4 linked regions of the Homo sapiens genome follow. The protein of the gene in region 3 interacts with the protein of the main gene of each other region in a pairwise test. Each region holds a gene or a part of one and is shown on either strand. Other genes may lie near its edges. The genes, in order: CCDC50, RABGEF1, ARRDC3 and UBE2E2.

Region 1 (7,113 bases), on a different chromosome or scaffold from region 3:
TTAGTTGACTTGATTCTTTTCACCTACATATGAACTCAATCATTTCCCTTTGTCTCCCAGTTTAAGAGATTTACCAAGGTATAAATACTACCATAGGTGTATGTGTGTGTGTTTTTTCAAAAGGTCTGTCCAAATGATGAATATTTTTGACTTCCTTAAAAACTAAGTAAGCAAGCATTAGATTTCAACCTAGGAAAGAAGATTTTTAAATATCCCCTTACCCTAATGTCAGCTGCTACCCACGACCTCTATTGAAATGTTCACGACAAAAGGTCACAGGGTGCCCCATCCCCTCCTAAACAGCAATGGAAACGGGCACACACTCACTGCACTATTCTTCTTAATCTCTATTGGAATCTACCCCATGATACCAAATTGAATATAAATTGTAACTGCATATATATCTATCAAAAGTTTAAATTAAAAAGTAGAGGAGACAGATACAGGGATTTTTTTGAATGGGGTTCAAAAATCTGCATCAGAATATTAAACTAATTACTACTACTAACCCTTCTCAAATGAAGTTGGAGTTTCAATATTACCACAGTCTCAATGTTTGCACATGTTTTACCCTATCAGGGGCACAAGCTTCATTCTCTTTAATTAGGATAAAGACACTGTTAGGGAGTAACTGGGCCATAATTAAGAGTTATATTAGGGAAGGATACACTTTATTAGACTTGAATACTTCTCAGATCAAAAACTTCACCACCATTAGTAGGACATTCCTAGTATAATACATCACTTCCTTTGATGATCTTGGAACTAGAAAAGTCAGATGTTTACAAAGACAGTGATCTCATCGATTCCTGACCACCTTCAAAATTAATATTTAATTGTAACTTAATGAAAGAGCCACACTGAATTTTCTTACCAATTTACCAGATTACATAAAAGAGATTGCCAAACACCGTATTACGCAAAATGAAAGCTAATTTAAATGTATTAGACTCTAGAGTGTGGAAATGGAAAAATCTTGCATTTTTATATGGAAGGTGTTTGTGGAACTCCTTGAGAAATAATATGTTAGAATACATCATTCATGTCTTGGTACGAAATCAGAAGACCTAAGGGTAATATAAATGTATATGAAGAGTTTTATGTTTTTTCACTCACATGAATAGGGGATTGGATAAAATCATAGCACCATATGATTAATACTATACATACCAGGTTTTGTTTGAACTCCAATTCTCATTCTACTCACCATGCACTACACACTGCACAAGGATCACTCTTTCTCTAGAGACAAACCCAACACATACCCACACAAAAAACCCTCATATCCAAAAGTAAAGGATAACCAGACAATCTCTAAGATAAGAACTCTCAAAAGTATGGATCCGCCTTTCCTATCGCTCAGCCTCCTTAGTCTTGACAGCAGAGTGAAAACTGTTTTCTACAGGTGAAAGCCCTAAGTCTTCATCAAAGCCATACCAGGGACGGAAAGGTAGAAAAGTATTAACGCTAAAATCTCACGCCTAAGCTTTAACACCCTTCCGGAACAGTAAGACAGAACTAGGCCCATCAGAAATTCTACATAAAATCAGTGACCACTAGTCACTAGTCTCCTAGTGCTTGAAACTCTGAGAAAGCAATCAAGCAGTCCCTCATTTTCCTGAGATTTTTGGGCTGGCCTGAGCACACACAAGACCAACGGAGTCAAATTAAGTTGGCAATAAAACAAGCGGTTCCAAGAAAGCAAAAACTATTTTCAATTCCACATCTCCAAGACGCCTCAGGCTACAGTATTCAATCGATACAAATGACATTCACAACAGAAGCCGATTTTGCAAAGCCCTTGGAACTTAGGGGTCTGCGTCAGCACTCTGGAACGTCTATGCTTCCTAGGACCAAAGAATAAACAAAGATAACTCAAGGCATAAGGCGATCCAGCACCTAAGATCTCAGCAAAAAAAAGCTAGGTCCTGAGGCAGCTAGTGGAAAAACAAGAGAAGGGAAGTCAAAAGGCTACTTGCTGTCAGCTAAAGCCAGGTCAGTACTAATCTCTACTTTCCTGGACATTGGTACAAAAAGCAATGACAAGGCCATCAGTCCCCTGTTCCCCTCGCTCACTATTGTGTGTGTGTGTGTGTGTGTGTGTGTGTGTGTTTTGTTTGTAAGAAAATGCTTATAGTGGCTTCCCGCCCGCGCAGAACACAGCCAAGACTAAACTTTTAAACCTTGAGGAAGGTGGGAAAGTCAGCCAGCCAGACGCCGGCCTAGGAAAAGTAGGGAGAGAAGGAGGGAAAGAGTCATGTTTCAAAACAAAGGCTCCACACGGAACTGAATGTCAACCCCTCTCCACTTCCCAGCCTTCAAGCCAGCCAGGCTGGGCCTCGATTTTTTAGAAGCGGAGTAAGTCAGATTCACCCGGCTCTCAGCGTCCACTGAGGCTTTGCGATGCACGAGAACACGGGCACAGCCACCTACTTGCTGGGGCTGCTGCTAGCCCCCCCCCCCCCCAACCACCCCCTTGAGAAAAAACGGGCTTGGAACGTCGGAGACTTGCCCAACGTCCCACACTAGAACCTGAATTCAATTCCTTTCACGTCCGGGCAAGGCCAACGCAGGGCGGGCACCGGGCGAGGGCCGCGGGAGCCGAAATGGCAACGCCCCTGACCTGAGAGAACCTCGGGCTGGGAGAGGGGAGGGTCCCGCGCGCTCTCCCTCCGGGGCCCTTACCTTCCTTGACTCCAGGCAGCTTGGACTGGTCGATGCTGACTTCAGCCATACCGGGCCAGGGTCCCGGTTGCCCCTTTAACGCGGGCTTCCCGGTCACCGCCGGCGCCGAGCGGGGCCCCGAGCGCAGCAGCAGCGCCGGACGCGGCGCAAAGTCCGGCCGGCAGGGCTCGCAGGCCGGAGAACGGAGCGGGTCGGGCGGGCAGGGGCTGGTGACCAAAGCAGCGGGAGACGGTCCCCGAGGCACCAAGCTGGCGGCCCAGCTGCCCCGCCGCGGCCACCTGCTCCGCGTCCCCGGCCCCAATCGATACCAAATATCCGGAGCCCGGAAATGGACCGGGGCCGTCCAGTACGGAGGGAGAGAGGAGACAGAAAGGCGGGCGGGCCGGCTGGGGGAGGGGGAGCTGCAGGTCTGTAACCGCAATTGCGAGTGGCTGGCGAGCGAAGATCAGCGCCCGCTGCCGCCTCGCTGTTGTCTCCTTTGTGCTCAGTGACGCGCCGCCTGAGGCTGGGGCCCCGCTGTGCTCCCGCCCCCGGGCCCTGCCCCCCTCCTACGGGAGGGTCGCGTCTTTAGGTGGGGGCCTTGTATCCTAAAGGCCTCAACAAAAAGGCCACACGGGTCACCTAAAACATAGTCTTTCCCGTGAGCGGTGTAGTCAGCATTCTGTGGTCTGGTTCTGGGATTGAGATTAACACAGGATGTTTACTGCATGCTTGCCTCTCTCTCATACACTCTTTTTGCACCCGGAATTAGAGGAGAGATGGTAGATGGCCATAAAAACCCCAAATACAACGTACAGAATGAAGAGCAGCTGATAAAATTCTGGGCCAGTTTGGAGTAGAGTGTGTACACAATCAGCTGGGAGAACTGAGTCATTCATTCATCAAAATCGCATGAATGTGTCTACCAAGTGTGATGTTAGGTACTGTGGGTGATAACGAGGCGTCAGACTTATCTCTGTTATAGCGCTGCACACATTGGATTGTAATTGTGACATTTCTATCTCTCTAAAATAGACAACCTCTCCTGTTTCATCTCCTGGCAACAGAATGCATCCTCCTTTTGGGAAACTGCCTCTTTCCCCACTCCTCAGAGGTGAGCTTCTCTCCCAAACGTGTGCCATGTCTGAACCTCGAGACTACCCCATCACTCTTCCCCCTTCCTCCACCGACATGGGTTCATCGAAGGGTGGCTGGGTGACCAAGACAGGTCAAACAGAATACTTTCCTGGGTACATAAAGAGTTACATATTCTGTTTCTTGTGGAAAAGATCTGCCTCTAGGAGATGATGAGGCCAAACTGAAGACAGAAGCAAAGAGAAGAGAAAGGGAGATGAAGAGGGCATGTTCTGATGTTACCACAGTAGCAAAGCAGGATATCCCCAGAGCAGCTGGCATTTCAGCAACTCCTGGATTCTGGGATCTACAACCCGCAAACTCTCAACTTATCCTCAGTTTTGCTTAAGCTAGTAATAGTTGATTTTCTGTCACTCACAGCTCAGAGTCCCAGTATGAGAGGCCACGTAGGGGAGGTTTTATTTGAACTTGACATTGAAAAGTAGGTGGATTTTAGGCTAGCAAAAATTTAGAAGACTTTCAAGGCCAGAGGGTAGCAAAGTATAGCCCACAGGCCAAATCTACGCCACTGAATTTGAATGACTGTTTTTTATATGTTCAAATAATTACATTTCAAATCACTACATAAATAGGACATAATATTTTCGACCTTGCCTCTTAAGCCTCAAAGTCTAAAATATGCTTTACAGGAAAAGTTTACCCACCCCAGTGCTAGGCAGAGATAACACTCAGCAGGTTAAATGTGGGAATAAGAAGGAAGTGGTATTAGAAAGGTAGATTTATGGGAATTTTTTAATTGTCCTGTAATCTAGTAATTTTTTTTAACTTCCTGTGGTCTAGAGAATATTTATAACAGCAGTATTTTCTGTTTCCCTCCCCAAATCTATCGTTTCTACTTCTCTACCAAGCCGTGCCTTTGGATGCCTACAGATAAATCACTAGGCCCCTTTGACCTGTGGCTTCCTGTTGTGATTGACCAATGGGAAGCACTGGCAGAAAATCAAAAGAAGGGAGGAGAGAAATATCAGAGTATTCTTCTTTCCTTTAACCCAAAATTTTGGCCACAGTCCTGTCCCTCTATGACTACAGGGCCTGTGTAGAGGCCTCTTTTCCATGGCCTCAGCTCTCATGGGTCTCTAATAAAACAATTTGTTTCCAGTGTCCCTTCAGGCCTAGAGTGTGATGGCTTCCCCTAGTTCCTTTTGGCTCACTGCAACTTCTGCCTCCCAGGTTCCAGTGATTCTCGTGCCTCAGCCTCCCGAGTAGCTGGGATTACAGGTGTGCACCACAACGCCTGGCTAATCTTTTGTATTTTTAGTAGAGGCAGGGTTTTGGCATGTTGGCCAGGCTGGTCTGGAACTCCTGGCCTCAAGTGATCCGCCCACCTCGGCCTCCCAAAGTGCTGGGATTACAGGCACGAGCCACCACGCCCGGCCTCCCCTAGTTCTCTTAACCCAGTTAATACCTCTGAAATTGTCTCTTCATTACATTCTTTTCAGTAAAATCACTTACAGTGCACCTCCTGTTTCCTACCTAGACTGTGACTGTTACAGTAAGATATGCCAAAAGTAAGATATGCTTAAAATATGATGTGCTTACAGTAAGATATGCATAAAAATATCCACATTTCTGGCCTAGAGAAGAAATGGAAACATATATAATAGCCACAACTATTGTTTAGAGAATCGGCTGCTTTCAGCAGAAAAAGTAATGAAAACCAGGAGCCCTTTTCAGGTACTAGAGCAGATGACCTGGAAATCCACCCCATAGTTGGGCTTTCCTTCTCCTACTCCACACCTGTTCTGTATAGGTCCCCAAGCTGAGCAAACAATTAGAGCTCAGCATTACAGAGTAGGCAACTTCTAGCAAAGGACTGACAGTAACACGGGGAAGAGCTAGTATCTTTTGAGTATTTATAGGGAATGAACATATGGTGAATTTCTGTAACAAGTTTACATCTTTTGGTGTCCTGAAATGTCCATTTTGCAATAAAAGAGAAAGCATAAGGCTTCTCAGGATGGATACAGATCCCTAATTTGGGGCAGATGCCAAACAAGTAATTCAGCATCAAATCACAACTTGAATGCCATAGAGAGAAATAAGGATTTTATTTATAAGGCAATATGGAGGCATCAATTGATTTTTTTTTCTAGGTGGATATTACATGATACATTTTCTACTTTTATAAAGTGAATTTGGTAACAATAAAATGCTTGGATTGGAGTAGGGAGACTTTGGTCATAAGAAATGAAAACTCCAGTTTGAAAACTACCAAATTCCACAAAAGCATCCCCCAGTTAGAGCTTACCTTACTAGAAGGTAAGCTCTGTGAGGGCAGGGGTTTATCTGTTTGATTCCCTAATATCCGCGTATCTAGAAAAGTGCTTGGCACATAATAGGCACTCAATAAATATTTGTTGCATAAATAAATAAATATAGTTATCCAATTTTATTATCAGTAAGAATCACAAATTAAAAGTAAGTTAAAAAAACAATATAGGCAAATGAATAAATTACACTGGACCTTGGCAAAACAGGAAAGGGGACCCACAGAACTATACTTCTGGAAAGAATTATCTGTCTCCTTGGCCCCCAGTGCTTCCTAGCTCATCAGCATAATATACCTAAGAGAACAGTTCCAAAAATGAGGATGCAATTAGAACTGTTATTCACTTTCACCAAGAAGACTGTATGAATATTCTAAGGTTGCCATAACAAAATACCACAGACTGAATGGCTTAAATAACAGAAATTATTATATATGTTTTTCACAGTTCTGGAGGCTAGAAGTCCAAGAGCAAGGTGTCAGAACATTTGGTTTCTTCTGAAATCCCTCTTTTTAGTTTGCAGATTGGATTAGGGCTAACCCAAATGTCTTCCTTAAAGACCCTGTCTGCAGTGCAGTCCCTCTGAATTACTGGAGGCTAGGGCTTCAACATGTGAATCTTAGGGACAGATAATTCAGCCCATAGTAGAGACTATTAGGACAATAATCCAACCGTACAGTTTAGGCCTCTTTACTCCAGGCCTTGAAGCATTTTTGTCTGGACTCTCATAACATATGTAAGTTCCCCAACCCTATTCATGCTCTCAACTTTCCTCAGTTGCTCAAGTCCCCTCACCCTATGGAATTCACTATCAGTTACTCACAAAATTCCCCATATCTCCTTTGTAACTATTCCCTTTCCCTTCTTTTCCTACTGGAACTCAGGGGTCACCTGGGGACATTGCTCTTCCAAGAGCCCTCTAAATTAGAGGCTGTTTCTTCTAACATACCCTAGACCCCATTGGACCTGGAGGTGCCATGGTTTTTATCTTATTGCCTTTTTTAGAACATATGTCTTTCCTATTTTT
Region 2 (7,027 bases), on a different chromosome or scaffold from region 3:
ATCATGGAACAGTCAGCTGAATAAAAACTAAATAAAAAAAGAAGTACAAAAAAAAGAAAAAAAATTTATTCTATCTGCATTTGACCTTAGTTTAGTTTAATGCCCAAGAAACGAGACCATAATCCCTGAAAATAAAGGGGTAAAAGAGAACCTGCTCTTCTGAATGCCATCAAATTCATAAAACAATCTTACAAATCACTTTTACTACATTCCAATGTACCTTCGACAATCTGCATTTTACAAATGTATAGATGAATATTACAGTAAAATGTTAACTTTAAGGGGAAAACATCCCAATAAAAAGGCTCTTGGTTTCACTGACCTGTGATCGCCTTCACCACCATATCAGACACTTCTGGGATGTCTTCATTAACAGGGACACACAGCATCTGAGGCGTAACCCAGCGCAGGGCTCTAAAGAGAGAGAGACAGTAAACAAGAGCTCCAAGGATAAACTGTGGCCATTTGTCTTGTCACCTCCTTCAGTTTAGGGAAAGCCTGAGGCATCACTGACCACTCAATCCCAGGCCCACACACATCACCCCTGCAAGTACTACGAGCTCTAATGACGTGATGAAGCAGCTAGGATCCTAAAATGAGACTTCTGCATTTATCACAAGAATGGAAGGCCATCTTGCTGACTGAAATGACATTACGCAGTGCTACCAAGACTGAAATGCACTCAGTATCTGAAAGTGACCATTTGAGAATTGGCTGCTGCCTGTCCTCGCTGCCTACTGCGTTAATGTCCTTTTACACTCAGTCCTCAACTTCTTTCTTTTTTGAGATGGAGTCTCACTCTTGCCCAGGCTGGAGTGCCAATCTTGGCTCACTGCAGCCTCTGCATCCTGGGTTCAAGCAATTCTCCTGCCTCAGGCTCCCAAGCAGCCGGGACTACAGGCGCCCACCTCCATGCCCAGCTAATTTCTGTACTTTTACGAGACAGGGTTTCACCCTGCTGGCCAGGCTGGTCTCAAACTCCTGACCTCAGGTGATCTGCCTGCCTTGGCCTCCCAAAGTGCTGGGATTACAGGTGCGAGCCACCACACCTGGCCTCAACCCTCAACTTCTGAGGCACACTGGAGCTTGTATAGGAGGCCACGGGCAGGACCACCATGCCTGAATCACTGTGTGTTTCCTGGTCCCACCCTAACTGCACTCCAACTACCCTGCAGCAGGCCTGCCCTCTTGCTTGGTTACTGCTTCTGTTCTGCATCTTGGTCCAGGGCCCCTCTAGTTACTTCTGGCTCCTGACCTTGGGCTCCACATCTTCAGCCTGCCCAGTATCAACTCCTCACTTCAGCTATGAAACTTCCAATACAGATCTAGCAAGTACCAGCCCCTTGTCTGGAACCTGGGACTCCGAGTCCCTTCTCCCCTTAAAACACCTCATCAGCTCAGCCTTGGCCCTGTTCCCACACTTGGGTGGTCTCTTCCTCAGTGTCCACCGCAACTGGAGTACACAGTGCTGGGGCTCACCCCAGTGAGCCTGGAAGACTGGGTGCTGTGGGAAATGTCATCAATCCAATGCCAGTGAAAGATGTGACTAGGGAATGCTGAAAAATGCACACCCCTGGGAGGAATGAGGAAAGAGGACATCTACTGACTTGTTATTTTTTTGAGAAGGAGTCTTGCTCTGTTGCCCAGGCTGGAGTGTGGTAGCATGATCTCAGCTCACTGCAACCTCTGCCACCTGGATTCAAGCCATTCTCGTGCCTTAGCCTCCCAAGTAGCTGGGATCACAGGCGTGCGCCACCATGCCTGGCTAATTTTTGTATTTTTAGTAGAGACGGGGTTTTACCACGTTGCCTGGGCTACTCTTGAACTCCTGGCCTCAAGTGATCCTCCCAAAGTGCTGGGATTACAGGTATGAGCCACCGGGCCCAGCCGACATCCCCTGCCTTGATACCGATATTCACAGCTTCCCACTTGAGGAGATGGTAATGGACCAAGAACACAGTCCCCCTATTCCTTGGAGATTTCAGGGATTGAAAACAATCTCAAACACCAAACACAACTCTTACCAAAAGCTGCCTTGAGGGAGATGGATAGGTGAGGTCACCACATTCCTCGTCTTTCTTACACAACAGAGCTGCTTCCACTCTAAGGAAGCAGGAACATGAGCTATTGCTTTCCCTTAAGGTTTGAAACACAGGTGCATTATTTTCCCCCCAGTGTGTTCTTCCATTAGAAGGTAGTAACTACAAAGCAAAACAAAATAAGCAACTACCTGATTCTCTTTTGAATGGCAAGATCTTTCTTCTCATCATCAGTAGTTTCTGGACAGAATACATATTTATAGAGACGAGTCATGATGTACTTTTCAATCTGATCCATTATCTTCTCGACTCTTTCTGGAGGCACTGAAATAACCAGACAGAGAAAAGATCAAGATATATATATTTTTTCTCTCTCTTTTTTTTTTTTTTTGCAAACAAAGAGTCTGGCTCTGTCGCCCAGGTTGGAGTGCAGCAGCATGACCTTGGCTCACTGAAACCTCCACCTCCTGGGCTCGAGCCATTCTCCTACCTCAGCCTCCCAAGTAGCTGGGATCACAGGCACACGCCACCATGCCTGAATAATTTTTGTAGGTTTTTTCTGTGGAGATGGGGTTTTACCATGTTGCCCAGGCTGGTCTCGAACTCCTGGGCTCAAGCAATCTACCTGCCTCAGCCTCCCAAAGTACTAGGTTTATAGGTGTGAGCCAGAATGCCCGGCCAAGAGTATATTTTCATAGCACTGTCTACACAGCAAAAAACTAATTTACTAGAAATAAATTAAACACACTCAGAACAAAAGTATAAGAATGTTATATTTAAAAATACGCTTAAAAAAAAAACTTACCAGCTGGGTGCGGTGGCTCTACTCCTGTATTCCCAGCACTTTGGGAGGCTGAGGCAGGTGGATCGCCTGAGGTCAGGAGTTCAAGACCAGCCTGGCCAACATGGTGAAATCTCCTCTCTAATAAAAATACAAAAATTAGCTGGGTGTGGTGGCACGCACCTGTAATCCCAGCCACTCGGGGGCTGAGACAGGAGAATCACTTGAACCTGGGAGGCAGAGTTGCAGTGAGCCGAGGTCACACCACTGTACTCCAGCTTGGACGACAGAGTGATATTCTGTCTCGACAAAAACAAACAAACAAACAAACAAAAAAATCTTCTTCCAACTGTTGGGCTGCCTTCCACAGCAACCTCAGTTCTAACTGAAGTTGTCTGACAGGACCTAACAGTGTACACCCTGCCAAATGGGGAGACTTCAGCAAGGTCACTCCCTGTCCTACATTACAAAGGCATTTGCAACTCCCAAGACTGATGAATGCTGATGAAACTTATCCTTTCATTTTTCTGAGGTTTACCATAACATCGTAGAGCTCTCTGAGGTATACAAATGGAGATTTCTCTGACACACACATGTGCTAAGTATATCCTAAAGTCTAGTATCAGTGAAGGTTGAATCCATAAAGAATCCCTAAAAACTTGAAGCTCTTTTTTTTTTAAACTATTAATACAATAACTCACCAAAATGGTGATTCCAAGATGGAAAATTCATTTAGCAAAGCCTTCCAATAAGTTTTTCTCTTTCTCTCTCTCTTTTTTGAAGACAGAGTCTCGATCTGTTGCCCAGGCTGGAGTGCAGTGGCACAGTCTCAGCTCACTGCAACCTCCGCCTTCCGGGTTCAAGCAATTCTTGTGCCTCGGCCTCCCGAGTAGCTGGGATAAGAGGTGCACCACAACACCCGGCTACTTTTTGTATTTTTAATAGAGGCGGGGTTTCACCATGTTGGCCAGGCTGGTCTCGAACTCCTGGCCTAACGTGATCCGCCTGCTTTAGCCTCCCAAAGTGCTGGGATTACAGGCATGAGCTACTGAGCCAGGCCCTAAGATGTTTTCGTCAGCTCCAGCCCTGCCCCAATGGAGTTATTAAATGTTACTCAATAAATTATCCAATTGCTCCTGGAAAGATACGCATGGTACAGTTCAAAGGCACTGCTAAGTATAAGACCAGTTCCCAGAATGTCCATGAGGTTACAGGATGAAGTCTACAAACCAGCCAGACCATCAGAGAAAGAAAGAAATTGCTAAGAGACTGAGCAGTCATCCCTGTGCAATACCCGCAATCTCTCAATGGCTAACAGTGTTACCTTTCCCACGAGTTTGCATCCTTTCGGCCACATTGTGGTAGAAATCCTGAGCACACTCTGACTGTTCTTCAATGCTTAGATCCTGAAACAGAGAGACAAAGAGGCTGCTTGTAGCTGAACAAAGTGCAGAAGCACAGCTCTACATTCTAAGAACTTTCCAAAAGCCATTCCTTGTACTGGTAGTAAGCCTAAAAGTACTCACAGGTTATATTAATCCTGCAGGAGAGTAAAACCTATCCATTAATATTATTTCCAATATCCATTGTTGCCGGACTTTTCCTTAGTTCAGCTAAAGACGGGATCCTTGTCCGTCTCACAGCCACAAAAATTTAGGCTCGCAGGCGGTTTGAATGGTGGGTAAGACAGGGTTTTATTAGGTGAAAAGGAAGAAAAGGGGGAATCCGAGACACTCACAAGGCCAGAGTCCCTGCTAGAGTGCTTCCTGCCAGCAGCTAGAATCCTGGGCTCCACACAGAAAGAAGAGGGGCCAGGCTCCTCCCTGCTACAAATGGTGCAAACTTCCCAAAACTCCACCCCGGTGGGCAGGCTGGCTGGAGTTTTTCCGGGGACCCCTTCCCACCTAGCGGTCTCACCATGACCATCTCATTCTTTTTGCTAAATCTACGTATTCTTAAATAGATTTAATGCATGTTTTGATAATTTACATATTTTATGTACATTTCTATTTATCTAATCCACTGAATCATTTCTGGTGGCTTTATAACACTGCATTATATTAACTGACTTCTTCGACTCTCCTCTACCACTGTGCATTTGAGTTGCTCCCCCTCTTTCACTGTTGTGCACTGTAGGTATAAATAATTTTGTAAGGACTATCTTCTTTTCGGTTCTCTGTCATACATTTCCAAAAGTGGCATTAACCGCTTAATATGAATAAACAATGTTATAGCACTAAGTATCTATTGCTAGCCACACTCCTCAGAAACTCAGTGCACACTGTCATTAACCACGTGTATGCACTTACTTCCCTATGGCCCTTACAACATTGGGCTTGATAATTTTTATTTGGTTTTACTGATTTTATAGGTGTAATATATGTATTTGTTTCTCACTTTCTGCCAAAGAATATTTAAAGGCTATTTAAAAGATAAATGCAGTTCAGCACAAGAGACTAGAAAATAAAAAGAATAACAAATAACTGTAATCCCAGTGCTCTGGGAGGTTGAGGCTAGAGGATCGATTGAGCCTAGGAGTTTGAGGCCAGCCTGGGCAACATAGTGAGACCCCATCTCAAGAAAGAAAAGAAAAGAGAAGAGGAAAGAAAGAAAGGGGAGAGAAAGGAGAGAAAGGAAAGAAAGAGAAAGAAAGAAATTAAAAAATTTTTTTAACAATAATAAGTAAAAAAAAAAAAAAAAAAAAAAAAATTAAACATGGAGAGAGACCTAAAGCAGAGCCACAGATGACAAGACAGAAATGTTTTCCTGGAAGATGTCTAAATTAGTCAAGAGTCAGCCCATACATCTGTCTCTAACTAAATTTTTTAGCAACCATCACTAGGATGAAAACAGTTATGTAATTCAGGGTTCAAAAGATGAAAGCAAACAAATTATTCGGGTGAAATTCTGACACCAAAATCAAAAATTTCTCCCAACGGTTCTCATAAGGATGTCACAGTAGAAGAACATGAATAAGGCCGAGAACAAACCCCCAGGACGGGCTGTCACAGACTTCATCTACACAGGCCACTGACCTCACACGCCAAGGGCCGATACATCCTGTGGAAGCCCACAGCAGTCTGACCATCTGGCTTAACTCTAAAAGGATGGCAGGACACTTGGGGTCAGGAGCAGTCACCTCATTCCCTCAGTAAAAATGGCCAAGCACTCATGGCACTTTGTGATCACCTTGACTGCAGCCCTTGTTACTGTCAACTAGTTACCCATATACATGCACACACTGCAGTGCTCAAATCTATCCTTCTACTTCAAGTATTTTATGCAAAAGCTTATCCATTCAATCTTTTTAGGTAGTTTACACATGGTTTTACACCTTTCATTTGCACCAAATTTTAGCACTTAACTTAGAAGAAACTATATTCATTCTTGTGATTATTACTACAGATTTGAGCATTCCTAACCCAAAAATAAAAAATCTGAAATGCTCAAAAATCCCAAATTTGTCAGTGTCGACATGACACCACAAGTGGGAAATTCCACACCTGGCCTCATGTGATGATGGGCTAGAGTCAAAAAGCAGCCAAAACTGTTACATGCACAAAACTGCTTAAAATGTGGTATAAAATTACCTTCAGGCTATGTATGTAAGGCATATATTCAACAAATGAATTCTGTGTTTGGACTTGGGTCCCAGTCCCAAGTTATCTTATATATGTGTAAATATTCCAAAATCTGGGAAAACCCCAAAATCTGAAACACTTCTGGTCCCAAGGCTCTCGGATAAGGGATACTCAACCTGTAGTGCTCGCTTCCAACTAGAAACTCTCTGAGCTCCTTTTAGAGACCCGAGAGGCCTGTCTTACTGGTGTCAAGGGATCATATTCTCCTCCCCCAGCCCAGCACAACCCCTGTAATTTTACAATACAATGCCGAAAACTCCTTTTCTATTTCTACTGCAGTTTATGCTCCAGTACAGTATTGCTTTCATAATGTAAAAGAACTCACCCCTGCCACTGTCTCTCATCCTGCTTTCCATTCTTGTAGGACTTAACACTATGTTACAGATCTGCTTATTGTCCATTTCCCCAACTAAAATGTTAGCTCCACAAGGGCACTGTTCACCACCATATCCTCATGCCTAGAACAAGGCCAGGCACAGGGTTAGTGCTCAGTATGGGTTGAATGAATAAATGTGGCCATTTATTACCATTCCTCCCTTTATAAGATGCTGAAGACAATTCTCCAT
Region 3 (7,027 bases):
TCGCCCCGCCCCCCGGCCAGCAGGCTAGGTTGCGCGGGCACGGGCGCGAGCGCCGCGCGACGTATGCCGTATGTATAGCGGGGCGCGCGGGCGGCAGCGGCGGCGGCGGCGGCGCGCGGGCAGGCCGGCTGGGATCTGCTCGCGCCGGTTTAGGCCGGTCCTCTCCTGCTCCGGTCTAGTTCTTGATTGACAGCCCGGCACTTGTTTACCACGGCGCGGCCGCCGCCGCTCGCTTCAATGAGACTGCTGAGCTGGCACAAAAAGGGAGCGAAGAGGGAAGAAAGGGAAAGGAAGGCGAACTTCGGGCGCCTTCGAGGGGAGCGAATTTAAATGGCCCCCAGCTCATCAGCTAGTTTTTGGTTCTGAAATCCGTTCAGGGGAATTTGCACAGGGGACGAGGAAAATTGTATGGAGACATAAGCGAATCACCATGATTTTTAAATGAAAGTATCGACGTATACATGCTTTTTTCCCCCTTTTTCTCGTTTAATATCAGGGAGGCATCACGTTTTTTGTGTATATCCAATACTTTGCTGAAGGAAAGTTAAATAATGTGCCAGTTTTTTCTACTCTGGGGGCTAATCGTAAAGGTTTCTACACCAAGAAAACTTTAAAAGATATTTCTGTAATTATTTAAAACGCTAAATAGGCACTTTAATGATCTAGAACCCCCTCCCATATTTTCGATTATATTTATTTTCATGCCACTTGAAAAAAAATAATTTCACCAAAAAAATTGGTTGTAAAATGAAAGGTCATCCCTTTTTTATAGAAACTGGAAACTATTAATAGTTAGACTTCATTTTTTTCAAGGATGTTGGAAAATATTGTTTCCTTATAAGCCGACACCACCTAAATGCGGTTCTTTGTAATTATCTAAGGTATAGTTTATGCAAGTTTTAGTCGTTGCTAGGACCAACTGAGTGTTGTGATCATTTTAGATCAATAAATAATTATTTTTAGTTCAATAAATAATTATTTTTAGTTATAAATCTGACATTAAAATCAATGTGTGGCTTTTTTTTTTTTTTTTTTTACTCCGTCTATTTGACAAGGTTTTCTAGTGGTTTTGGAGTATCTATTCTATTCACATCTGGTATTATTATTCCCTATAAACTGACATATTTTAAGAGGGTTGCATGAACAGTTTTTCTTTGATACATTATAGTCTTAATGTGATAAATTTAAGCAAACCGTTGGAGACAAAGGATAGCATTGTCTTACCATGATGTGAGACCCGAGCCTTTTGAGTATATATACTATTTTATAAACAGATGCTTTGCAGTTTGGGTCATTTTCCATTAGAAAAAATAAAAAGCCTGTGGGGTGTGAGTATTCATTATCCCCATTTTACAGATAAGGCAGCTGACGACAGGATTTTTATTTTGTCCAGAGGAAATGATGAAGTTAGAATTAGAACTCAGATCTCTCAGACTCCAAAGCTTGTTTTGTGGTCTTAATTGTTATGTAAGCATCTTTAAAGTTATGCCACCCTGCGGAGTATGTAAATGTTGAATAATAAATTCTTTGTTTTCTTTTTATGTTTGTTTTAGATGATGATAATTCCGAAGAAGGCTTCCACACTATTCATTCAGGAAGGCATGAATATGCATTCAGCTTCGAGCTTCCACAGACGTAAGTATTATAAATAATAGGCATTTTTATAGATACTTATGATCAGAGCATTATTTTAAAATTAAGTATTCTAAATTTAAACATTTTTAGTTGAAAAAAAAACCCTTTTCATTACTGAAACTTGCTAGAGGAAAACAATATATTAAACATAAGAAGCTATTTTTTAATCTAGCGTGGCAAAATTATAGAAAGCATACTCAATTTTCAGTATTCTTTCCTAAAGTTTATGAGGTTTTTAAAATAGGAATAGGGTTTCCTTTAACATGAGTGAATTGGAAGTTGCTAGTCGAATAATAACCACTTTATACTTAGTTTATTATCAATTATCATTATGAGAAAAGATAGACCCTATCAAGTCTTAGTAGCTTCAATTTATAAAAAATTCTATATTCTACTTTTTCTGCTAATACTAACCAATAGCAGTAAGTTTCGAAAATAAAAATAATTAGGAATATCCTAACTTTAGAAATGTTTTTCTTCTGATATGAACTTAATAGCTTCTGTACAAAGAACTATTGGGAAGGTCACACAAGAGATATGACCCAGGCTTAAAAGGAAACATGCATCAAGGATACATTAATATAAAACTTGGAATCTAGTAAGAAAGGAAAAAGGAAAGTGGTATATTCTTAAAGTAATGACAGATTGTTGGAAGAGATGATACAAACTTTTTAAAAAAAAATGCCTTTTAACAAATATTAAAACCTGCAAAATGGCACTTGTGGTGATTATTCTGGAGAATAAACAGATTACATAAGATTTTGTCAGGTGACAAATGTACATTAATTCTGCATTTGTTAATTCTAGTGCTTGAGATGTTATATATAGAGAGAGAAGTCATAAATGGTATTTTTTAGAAAATTCTATTTACTGTATTATTTGAGAATTTTATTTGGAATATAATGCCCTCATCTAATTTCTGAGAAAAATATTAAAGTCTGTTGATAGAATAAGGCCAATATGGGGCCTGAGTATTTTCAGCGTCATTTAATGTTAAAGTTCTATCCATAAACCAAAGTCATTTAACATAAATTTTGGATAACTATTAGCATACAGTTTAAGATTTTATTTCTCTGCTATACAAGTTAATGTGGGAGTCTAAAATGCAAAAAAAAAAAAAAATTATGAAAACACCAGTGTTTCTTATGCTAATCTAAGCTAGCACTCTTGTAAATAACTGAACATTGAGTATTTTACTAATGAAATTATGAAAAAGATACTGAACTTGCTAAAATAAAACCTTCCACAAGTAAAATCTGACAGAGTTAAAAAAAATTTTTTTTTATTCTCTTGACATAGATCAAGAGGACTATATCTTTTTCTTTTGAAGCCCGTAAAGTTAGAGAACAGCCAAACAAGAATTAGAACATGAGTAAACTGAGAGATACAAAAGTAGTTTTTCAGTAAACTTAGGAAATGTGAAATTTTTGAAACTATAATGACTATTCCAGGCCTTTTCTAGACCTTAGTTAGTTGCTATTAAAAGATGATAATTCCCGGCTAATGAGAAGTGGAGTACTATAGGGAATTTGGTCTGAATGTTTAACCAGTGTCTAGAATTTATCAGTAGAAATAGTTAAACCATTCTCAACTTTGTGTTTGAATTCTTGGCCTTTTCAAAAAATGCCCATTAAACTTTCATGATTTTGCCACCATCATTAAAAGTAGCCTCCTCTTAGTTTAAATGGATTGTATTCTTCTGGCTTTTTAAAGCAAAATTTTAAAGATATTTATTGTTTATTCTTAGTTGGAAATAGGAAGTTTTTTCCCCAGTGACTTATCCCTTTGGAAATTTTTTAAATTATATGTTTGATACCTCATTGGAACATAAACAATACAATATATTAACACTTCTATTCTGACCTACTGTGTAATTGTTAGAAAGAGGTATAAAATTAATATATTGACCTTTATATTCTGCACAGACCACTCGCTACCTCATTCGAAGGCCGACATGGCAGTGTGCGCTATTGGGTGAAAGCCGAATTGCACAGGCCTTGGCTACTACCAGTAAAATTAAAGAAGGAATTTACAGTCTTTGAGCATATAGATATCAACACTCCTTCATTACTGGTAAGAATTGACTGAATTATTTATTCTTTGTTTTTGGCATATAAATATTAAAGAATAATCAATCACCTAAACTATGCAGTTGTCATAATTTAAAAATACTGGTTTTCTTTTAAAATTTCATAAATATACATTTTCTTAAATACAGTCAAGAACACTGAAATTAATGAAAAATATGCTCATATTTTTGACATTGTAGTATACCTTTAAGTAAATATAAAACTAAGACCAGTATATGATATGAAGTATCTCTTACTCAGAGTATGACAGCCATAACAAAAAACAGATCTGGTCCTTGGATGATTTGAGTGGAAGAAGAGCAGTAGTATCTTTTATTATAATACAATATCACTTACTTGACAATATCATAATCTAAAATTTGTACTATACTTTGTTATTCCAATAGAGGGATAGTTGTCAAATAATGGGGAATCATTAGTTTCATTAAAAAACTCCTTTTTTAAAGAAATCTATTTTTAATTGCATTTGTCTGAAAATAATTCAAATTTGACTTAAAACTTTATTTGATTTAAACAAATGGTAACATCTTTAAAGCACATAAGAAATGGGCATTTTCCTTTTTTACATATTGATTTTTTAATAGTCTCAGAGAAAGATGTTAACATTTGGAATTATAATCAGATTGCTTTCTTTGCTGCCTTTTTAAGGCAGTTTAAATGGAATGTGGAAAGGGTTTTTTTTATTTGGTTGGTTTTTGATTACTATATTTGTAAATAGTGTGAGCTAAAAAACTATGTTTATGGGATAGGCTGTAAACCCTTTACCTTTTTTTTCTAATTGAATGGAAATTTATATGAAAATAAAAGTAATGGTATAATTCAAAACCATCGGTTAGTTAAAAAATAAGAAGTATGTCTGGATACAAAAAAAAAGCAAAACCAGTTGTAATTTTTAATTTTCCATAAATTTAGGGTTATATTTTAAAATATTCTGGTATTGATTGTACCAATCCATACACTGACCTTTTTCTCTTAATTTTTTTCTTACAGTCACCCCAAGCAGGCACAAAAGAAAAGACACTCTGTTGCTGGTTCTGTACCTCAGGCCCAATATCCTTAAGTGCCAAAATTGAAAGGAAGGGCTATACCCCAGGTATGTAAGAGGTAGATTCCCACAAAAAACTTTTCTTCACTTAGCTTTTGTGTTTAAATTTATAATATGACTACTAAATATAAACATAATATAGTATTCTTTTGTGAAATAACAAATTGTGCTTATCCATTTGTTTTTTTCACAAAGTAGAATGTAGTTTCCTTTTTCAAATAGCTACTGATTAGTTCATTTCTATGACTCAAGTTATTTGCAGTTCCTGGGACATCTTTTCATGTATGTTAGTTGCACTTTCTTACTTTAGCTTTAAGAATCTTGACTTCTTTTGTTGTTTTTTTCTAACAGTAGATATGTATATATTTTTCCCTCTCTAGGTGAATCAATTCAGATATTTGCTGAGATTGAGAACTGCTCTTCCCGAATGGTGGTGCCAAAGGCAGCCATTTACCAAACACAGGCCTTCTATGCCAAAGGGAAAATGAAGGAAGTAAAACAGCTTGTGGCTAACTTGCGTGGGGAATCCTTATCATCTGGAAAGACAGAGACGTGGAATGGCAAGTTGCTGAAAATTCCACCAGTTTCTCCCTCTATCCTCGACTGTAGTATAATCCGCGTGGAATATTCACTAATGGTATGTACACATTTAAGAGGTTTTTTCCTTTCTTTTTTCTTTTTTGAAACACCTGTCACCCAGGCTGGAATGCAGTGGCACAGTCTCAGCTCCGCTACAGCCTCTGCTTTCTGGGCTCCAGTGATCCTCCCACCTCAGCTCCCAAGTAGTTGGGACTACAGGTGTGCCTATAGCCATGCCTGGATAATTTTTGTATTTTTTGTAGTGATGGAGTTTGACCATGTCGCCCAGGTTGGTCTTGAACTCCTGGGCTCAAGTGATCCATCCACCATGGCCTCCCAAAATGTTGGAATTATAGGCATGAGCCACAGTGCCTGGCCCAAGAGGTTTTTGGTGTTTTTTTTTGTTTTGTTTTTAAGTCTTAAAGTTATGACATAGTTTTGTCTTACATCCAGGATTTGATTTTTTTAAATTCCATATATAGTGACATATAAAATACATAACTCTTTATATAGTTTGACTTACAATTATACCTTATATGTAAATGTACTATACAGAATTATACATAAAAGAGAAACTTTTCATGTATGTAAGTTTAAAAATGAAGTAAATGGGGGTTTCAAATAACATTAAAATTGGTTATGAGTTTTTGAAAAGGAAATCATACTTGGCATTCTAAACTTAATATTTCTTTGCAATGTTTAGGTATATGTGGATATTCCTGGAGCTATGGATTTATTTCTTAATTTGCCACTTGTCATCGGTACCATTCCTCTACATCCATTTGGTAGCAGAACCTCAAGTGTAAGCAGTCAGTGTAGCATGAATATGAACTGGCTCAGTTTATCACTTCCTGAAAGACCTGAAGGTAATTTGATAATACACGTCTAAGCTTAATCTCTTACTACTATTATCAAGAAAATTATTTTGCCTCTGATATTTTATGACCCTAGATGAACATAATCTTTTCCTAAAGAAAGTAGATGTGCCCCTAATATTCAGTTTTGATTATATGTCTTCATAGTTTTGATCACCAAACAATAATTATTTTACCTTGACGTTGCTTTTTAATACCTACTATTCTGTGTATTTTGACATGCATAAGAACATGCTGTTCGAATTGCGTGTATCTTTTTCCTTCAGCACCACCCAGCTATGCAGAAGTGGTAACAGAGGAACAAAGGCGGAACAATCTTGCACCAGTGAGTGCTTGTGATGACTTTGAGAGAGCCCTTCAAGGACCACTGTTTGCATATATCCAGGAGTTTCGATTCTTGCCTCCACCTCTTTATTCAGAGGTAAGTACCTACTCCTTAAGTATGAAATGAACTGGCTATCTTGGGAAATAGCATTGCAGGCATTTTTTTTTCTTAATGTTATTAGATCTTGATTATCATGTTAACAGAACAAATAATTTAAAACAACAGATTAAAAGTTAATATTAGGTTCATCAATATTTACTAAGTTTGATGCAGAGGTAGGACTGTTCACTTATTAGGGAATTAAGATAATGATCTAACCTCATGTTGAATTACTAATTTTTTTTTCTCTTAAACTTTTATCTTGAGACACATTTTTTGAAGGAAGAATTTTGTATATCCAAGCATCAATAGGAAGAACTAGCATTTTGCAAACACTGATTAAATAGTAGAATTTATCTTATTCATGATGCTTTTCCAA
Region 4 (7,027 bases), on a different chromosome or scaffold from region 3:
TTTGGAGAAAGAATTCTGCCAAGCTACTGGTTTAGCCAGAGAAAGAGAATTCATTGAAGGAAAATACAGAGTAGGGAGTTTATCTAGAGAGACAGTACACTCTGAAAAGATGAGGCAGGGCGAGCTGCTGAAAGAGAGTGAGCCAGCAGCACCCCGAGAGTGGTGGGTTTTTATGATTTCAGATTTTTTCTTGAAGTTCCTGCCTCTTTCTTAAGTCTCCGCCTTTTTACTTTGTTTAGTTTTCTGCATCTGCCTTAAGTCCCTGCCTTTTCCCTCACCTAGTTCCCGCCCCAAGGTTGTGGGACCCTCCCTTACTATTGGTGTGCACGCGTGAACCCGATGTTGGACACAAATTGCTTCTGCGTATCTCTTAGGAATTTTCTCCTTTGCCCTCTTCCCTTTAGCATGCATCTAGCTACATTCTGGCAGGTTAACTGGCAGAGTGAGCAATCACTGGGGTCTTAAGGGGGATTCCTTTCTGCCTAGGTATTTCCCCTCCTGTCTGTTCATATCTAGCACGCCTGTTTGGGGTGATCCCTGGGGCATGAGATTTTCCAGACTCCTTTTCTCAGGGCAGCCCTTCTCCTCCTCATGTCTGTTTATCTGCCTATTCTACCACATCTATGCCGTGGAATACTACTCATCAGTAAGAAAGGAACAAATTATTGACACGTGCAACAGCTTGGATGGATCTTAAGGGAATTGTGCAGAGTGAAAAGAACCAATTTCAATTGGTTACCTACTATACGATTCCATTTATATAGCGTTCTTGAAATGACAAAGTTGTGGAGATGAGGACAGAGTTGTAGTTGCCAGGAATTGAAGTAAAGGGAGAAGGCAACTATGGCTATCGCAGGGTACCATGAAGAATGTTTGTGATAGAGTTGTTTGTGTGTTGACTGGTGGTATTCACACAAATCTATACATGTGATAAAATTACATAGAACTAAATATACTTAATATGCATGAGTGCACATAAAAATGAAACTGGAAAAGGTCAGTGGACTGTATTAATGTCAGTTTCCTGCAGTATACTGTAGTTATACAGGATGTTTTCATTGGGGAAAATTGAGTGAAAAATACATGGGATCTCTTTATTTCTTACAACTGTACATGAATCTACAATTATCCCAGAATTATAAATTTTTAACGAAAGAACAGAGGCATTGATGCTGAGAGACAAACCGTAGGCTTTTGGATCAGCACAATTGTGTTCAAATTCTGGCTTCCACTTACCACTTGTGGGATCTTGAGCCAGTTCTTTAACCTCCCTTTGCCTTAGTTTCATCATTTTTCAAGTGGTTGCCAATAATATTATTTTCCCTATTGAGTTGTTTTGAGGGTTAATTATCAATATTATGTAAGCCACTCATTGGTTAAATTGGGATCGTAAAAATATTTTATCTTTTCATTTAGCACTTAAAGGGATAGGCACTCTGCCTTCTCCAGAGAAATTTTAATATCACGAGATAGTCTCTGTTTCATTAACTTAGGCTAGTGTCTTTATTTCTTCTTTCATGGAGTTTACTCTGTTGTTCTTTTACTACCTTCCTGAGTTGGACACTTAACTCATTAAATATCTGTCTTCCTTCCTAATGTATGTGTTTGAAACTGTAGATTTCTCTTTTACAACTGTTTTAGCTGAGTCACAAAATTTTGATATTGGCAACCCAATATTTTCATTGTCATTCAGCAATAATAGTAACTGATTTTTTTCTTTGATCCAAGAATTATTTGAAAATGAGTTTTTCAGTTTCCAAACATATGATAGGGGGATCTTTTATATGTAGATTCTGACTTTACATTATGGTCTTAATAATGTCAATTCTTTGAAATATGTAAAGCTTCTTTTGTGGCTTAGCATGGGATCAGTTTTTACAAATGTTTCTTAAATGTTCCTTAATCATTAAGTGTAGGATTGTGTCTTCATTCACTCCCTTGATTTTGTTTATCCAATTGTTCAGATCTCCAATATCCTTACTAATCTTTAGTCTGGTTGACCTATCAGTTACTGTGGTGAAAATGTCCCTCTTTGATTATAGCTATGTCATTTTCTCCTTATAATTTTGCACATTTTTACTTTGTATACTTTTGGCTATATTGTTAGATACAGCACATTCAGAATTGTTACTGTTTTCTTGATGAGTTGTTTATTTTATCAGTAACGTTCTTTGTTTCTAACAATGCTTTTTCCCTTAAACATATTTTGATCTGATAATATAGTCATTTAAGCTGTTTTTGTTAGCTAGTGTTTACACAGTATATGTATCTAGGATTTAGAATTCTCAGGAAAAACATTTCTCTTCTCATTCTAGAGCCCACGCTTTCTTTGGTAAGTTTCTTTGCTATCTCTGTCATAAGGCATATCTTTTCAAGTCCATGCATTTACTGAAAGACTAGCCATTCGAGTTTCCTAATTGATATAAGGGCGCTCAATTCTAAATTCTTGCAACATACAGGCCTAAGATTTCATCTTCTTTTTCCATGAGGGCATCAAAACCCAAACCTCCACTTTATTAAGACTGAGTACCATCTTTTACTCCCTTCCCTCTTCCCAAAACCCCACCCATGGCAGGTGCAGTCTCAGCTTGTTGCGCTTACTATAATTTTTGGTTTTTAATTCTGGGCTCTGGGAATTCCCCTTACAGATTTTGCTATGCATTTTAAAGAATGTTGGTTATATTTTCTTCAACATTTCTAGGCATTTAAGATGTGTATGTAGGTGTCATGGATTATCTGGTCTGGCATGATGCTAGAAGGGCAGTTCTCATTAGAAGTACTAATTTAACCTGAGAATGATGTCTCTTGTTCGACAACCACATAAGTCTCTAGATTTGCCCTTTCTGAGACTTCGCATCATGTAAATTACATAAATCTGGTGTTTGACTGGATGCTGGATGCCCTGGTGGAGTGGCAGCACCTGCAGAGATCTGCATGTGTGTTTTTCTTGGTTCAGAGCTATTTTGAACATAGGGTACCAAAAGACTGTCTTTAGAACCCTGAGATTTTTGTATATTTCAACTTAAAATTTAAGAACATTTATGAACATAATATTAATCAATAATATTCACATCTTATTGCCGTTTACATAACACTTTTATTAAACAGTTTTAGTAGTTATAAAACTGATTTGCACTTAATTATTTTCGTAGTTATAAAACTGATTTGCACTTAATTATTTTCAGTTGAAGTGTTTTACAAATGATATGGTCATGTTTCACAATTACATGTAAGCAGCATACAGTGGTGATCTAGCTATCACAGGGCAAAGGTAGGATGCACTAATATTACGTTTTAAAAATAAAATTTAAGAAGGAAAAGGTTTCTAAATTACAGCTAATTGTAACTAGTAATATAACTAAAATAGTAAATTGTAACTACTATAATTATACTAATATAGTTCTATGAACTGGGCATGTTATTTATATAAATGCCTTAGTTTATGTTTTAAAACTGTGTTATAGGCCGGGTATGTTGGCTTACACCTGTAATCCTAGCACTTTGGGAGGCCAAGGCAGGCGGATGACTTGAGGTCAGGAGTTCAAGACCAGCCTGGCCAACATGGCAAAACCCTGTCTCTACTAAAAATACAAAAATTAGCTGGGTGTGGTGGCGGGCACCTCTAATCCCAGCTACTTGGGAGGCTGAGGCAGGACAATCGCTTGAACCCGGGAGGTGGAGGTTGCAGTGAGCAAAGATCACGCCACTGCACTCCAGCCTGGGCAACAGAGCGAAACTCTATCTCAAAAAAAAAAAAAAAGAAAAAAAAACTGTTATAGAATAATATTTATTTTCTTTGTATTAGTACTCTCATGCTTTTTGGTGTTTGAATATTATAAATGTACAAAATCCTTAAAATAACTGGAATCTAACAAAAGTTTTCTTTGAAATTTTTTAGAAGTCAGAGTCAGTTTCTCCCCATGAACATTCCTGTAGTTGTATCAAAAGTAAATTCAGTCCCTAAAACATTTGTTAAATAACAGGACTCTTTATAAGAAGCAGAATGTCATGGTTTTGCTGTTGATGTTTATTTCTCTGTGCCCAAAATGACAAATTCTAAAATGATGATCTCTGTTGATTAATCTCATGTGCCCAAGAAAAAAATCAAGTGTATGTTAACCAATAGCCTGGGCTATTTTGTCTGATAAAATAGGCAATTTTATTAGACAAAAATTGTCTATAGATACTGTTAATAAACACTTTGTCTAACAAAATATAACTTTACATTTTCTTGTAGGTTACCTTCCGAACAAGAATCTATCACTGTAATATTAACAGCCAAGGTGTGATCTGTCTGGACATCTTAAAGGACAACTGGAGTCCGGCTTTAACTATTTCTAAAGTTCTCCTCTCCATCTGCTCACTTCTTACAGATTGCAACCCTGGTAAGAGACTTTAAATCTAGTATGAATTGGAGCTTGTCAAGATTTAAATGTCAGACCCTTAGTAACTTGTTTACTACTGCTACTACCACTACCACCACTGCTTCTACTACTATTATTGTTAAATTTTCATAGTATGTAACTATTTTCTTTTTAAATTGGGTCTTCTCATTAGTGTTTTTAAGACCTATCATTTGCCAAAAAGGAAAAAGTATAGTGTGGTAAAAAAAATAATGAAAAATCATTTTAGATGGGAAAGTACGTTTAAAGAATGAATTAAGTTATCCTGCCAAATAATAATAAAAATTCAAGTTGAATAGCTTAATCTTTAATTAGATGCCTACTAGAAGATGTTAATTTGAGGAATGTGGGCTATTAAAATCTGATAACAACCAGGCAGCACCATGCAGACGTGACCTTTTTGGCATCCTAGTAACTGTGCATCCTGACAAGCTATTATAACGGTCCTGAATGGTCTGTTCTAGGAAATACCCCAAAAGTAAACAAGGAAATACACCTCCCAAGAAAACGAAAAAGTCTATAGCCAGGCCTTTATGGCTTGCTGGTGTGCTTACCACTGAAAATTCTTAATTCCTGGGCCATGTCTTTACAAATTGGGTTTATTTTAGAAAATACAAAAATCCAAAGATAGCTATAGGGTTTTCATTGATGTTCTCAGTGGGAGAATTATTTTATGAGTAATTAATAGCTTAAATATTGCATGAGATTCCCTCTTCTACAATCATGAGTAAACTCTGTTCACTGGATACATGAAATTTTACACAAATGGAAATGACGAGTATCAGTGGGGTTGCTTAGGATCCTGGCTGTTTTATAAAACATCAAGAAATAACAGTCTTTCTACTTTTATATTTCTTTATTTTTCAGCAGTAAAATCTTTTTTAAAGTAGCAAATTAGTATTTTTTTTTTTTTTTTTTTTTTGAAACTGAGTCTCACTGTGTCACCCAGGCTGGAGTGCAGTGGCACGATCTTGGCTCCCGCAACCTCCGCCTCCTGGATTCAAGCGATTCTCCTATCTTAGCCCCCCAAGTAGCTGGGATTACAGCCGTGTGCCGCCAAGCCCAGCTTATTTTTGTACTTTTAGTAGAGACGGGGTTTCACCGTGTTGGCCAGCCAGGTCTCGAACTCCTGACCTTGTGATCCGCCCGCTTTGGCCCCCCAAAGTGCTGGGATTACAGGCATGAGCCACTGTACCCAGCCTGCCCAAAAAATAAAATTGTGCAGGATCATTATAAAATATTTTTTGAATTAATTCATACTTTACTACAGACAGTAAAGTCCAATAATGTTATACTAATTTAAAGTTAATTTTGTTCTTTCAGTCCTGTTGTTCCCATTTTAATCCCATTTGTCTGTGACTGTGTATAACCTTGTATAACCTCATTTGGAGGTAATGTTGCAAGAAGGCTTTTTTTTTTTTTTTTTTTTTGAGGTGATTTCGAAGCCTGGCCTGCTTTGCCTCCAAGTCAGCTGAAATGGAATCTGTTACCCTGAATAAGCCTGTATATGACAGCCTGTTCTCTCTACAGATATTCCTGCTTAAAGGAATAGATTCATTCCACCAAAGCCTTCTCTCAGCAATCAAAAAGACTTCTGTTCAGTGAACTAGTTTTTTTTTTTTGCTCCGTTTCAGAAAATTACAAATGCATTCTGCAAAAACTTAAAAATCACTCCTAACTAAAGCAGAACCACATAAGTAAAAGAAATAGATTTTGAAATAATGCTATTGATAGTAAGAACAAGCCTAAAAATAATGTTCCATAAAACCAAAGACAGCCTGCCTCATATGAGACTAGAAGAGAATTTGTAAAATACATGCTAACATTTAGTTTATCACACTTTTTAACACATAAAAATAAAGTTTCCTAATTGGTTTTTATGAATGTTGACACTTCTAGAATCTTAAATAGAGTTGTTTATTTTAAAGTAGTCAAATGTCCATTCTTTTGCTTAATGGACTTATTTCACACTGTTATCTGGTACACTTTCAATCTCTGTAGGTTTTTTTACCTACAGAGGTAGGAAAGATTAGGTTAGATTGAAGTTTATCTTAAATCTATCTTCAAATTATCACAAAAACAAGTTTGATAGAATAGGAATAAATAAGATTTTCCTACACTGAATCTGTAGAGCTATTTTAACCCGGAAATGCTGTCACCTCAAAAATAGGCCTTGTATAATGATACAAATTTAACTCACTTAAAAAATACTTTCTCACTCTTATCCATACATAAACTTATTTTCTAAATCTTTTTCATACTCTTTTTGTAATTTGCACTTGTCTCTTTAAAGAATTTTTGGTCCATTCCAACACAGATGTTCTTTAGGGTATGACTACCCATCCTTATCAGCATGATATTTGTAGACAGCAGATGTAGATTTGAAAACCAGTTTAATTGTTTATTAGTCATATCACATTGGATGGGTCACTTAACTTTCCACAGGCTTAGTTTTTGATATAAAATTGGGATTAGTACCAGCCCTGCCTAAATCACTGGATTCCTCTGAGGTTAAAATGAGATGGTATATGTGAAAGCCATTTATAAATGGTAATGTGTTGTTGATATTGTTACCCAGAGTATTTGGGACACCAAATGGGCCCACAATAGGTGACCGATAAACA

The links.
Region 1: the proteins of ARRDC3 (region 3) and CCDC50 interact in binary tests that used the Homo sapiens proteins (3 or more experiments, as listed by UniProt).
Region 2: the proteins of ARRDC3 (region 3) and RABGEF1 interact in binary tests that used the Homo sapiens proteins (3 or more experiments, as listed by UniProt).
Region 4: the proteins of ARRDC3 (region 3) and UBE2E2 interact in binary tests that used the Homo sapiens proteins (3 or more experiments, as listed by UniProt).

Annotation. Positions count from the first base shown.
Region 1 is NC_000003.12:191,325,296-191,332,408, reverse strand, and holds the start of CCDC50 (coiled-coil domain-containing protein 50 long isoform), read right to left. Parts: upstream 3,016-7,113; 5' UTR 2,735-3,015; coding exon 2,686-2,734; intron 1,996-2,685; exon of another isoform or gene 1-1,995.
Region 2 is NC_000007.14:66,792,710-66,799,736, reverse strand, and holds part of RABGEF1 (rab5 GDP/GTP exchange factor), read right to left. Parts: intron 4,227-7,027; coding exon 4,145-4,226; intron 3,120-4,144; exon of another isoform or gene 3,004-3,119; intron 2,962-3,003; coding exon of another isoform or gene 2,845-2,961; intron 2,364-2,844; coding exon 2,231-2,363; intron 415-2,230; coding exon 323-414; intron 1-322. UniProt on the Homo sapiens protein: Rab effector protein acting as linker between gamma-adaptin, RAB4A or RAB5A. Involved in endocytic membrane fusion and membrane trafficking of recycling endosomes. Stimulates nucleotide exchange on RAB5A. Can act as a ubiquitin ligase.
Region 3 is NC_000005.10:91,373,302-91,380,328, reverse strand, and holds part of ARRDC3 (arrestin domain-containing protein 3), read left to right. Parts: intron 1-231; exon of another isoform or gene 232-881; intron 882-1,553; coding exon 1,554-1,635; intron 1,636-3,560; coding exon 3,561-3,708; intron 3,709-4,715; coding exon 4,716-4,818; intron 4,819-5,150; coding exon 5,151-5,407; intron 5,408-6,052; coding exon 6,053-6,215; intron 6,216-6,452; exon of another isoform or gene 6,453-6,490; coding exon 6,491-6,645; intron 6,646-7,027. UniProt on the Homo sapiens protein: Adapter protein that plays a role in regulating cell-surface expression of adrenergic receptors and probably also other G protein-coupled receptors.
Region 4 is NC_000003.12:23,528,317-23,535,343, forward strand, and holds part of UBE2E2 (ubiquitin-conjugating enzyme E2 E2), read left to right. Parts: intron 1-4,237; coding exon 4,238-4,385; intron 4,386-5,836; coding exon of another isoform or gene 5,837-5,898; exon of another isoform or gene 5,899-7,027.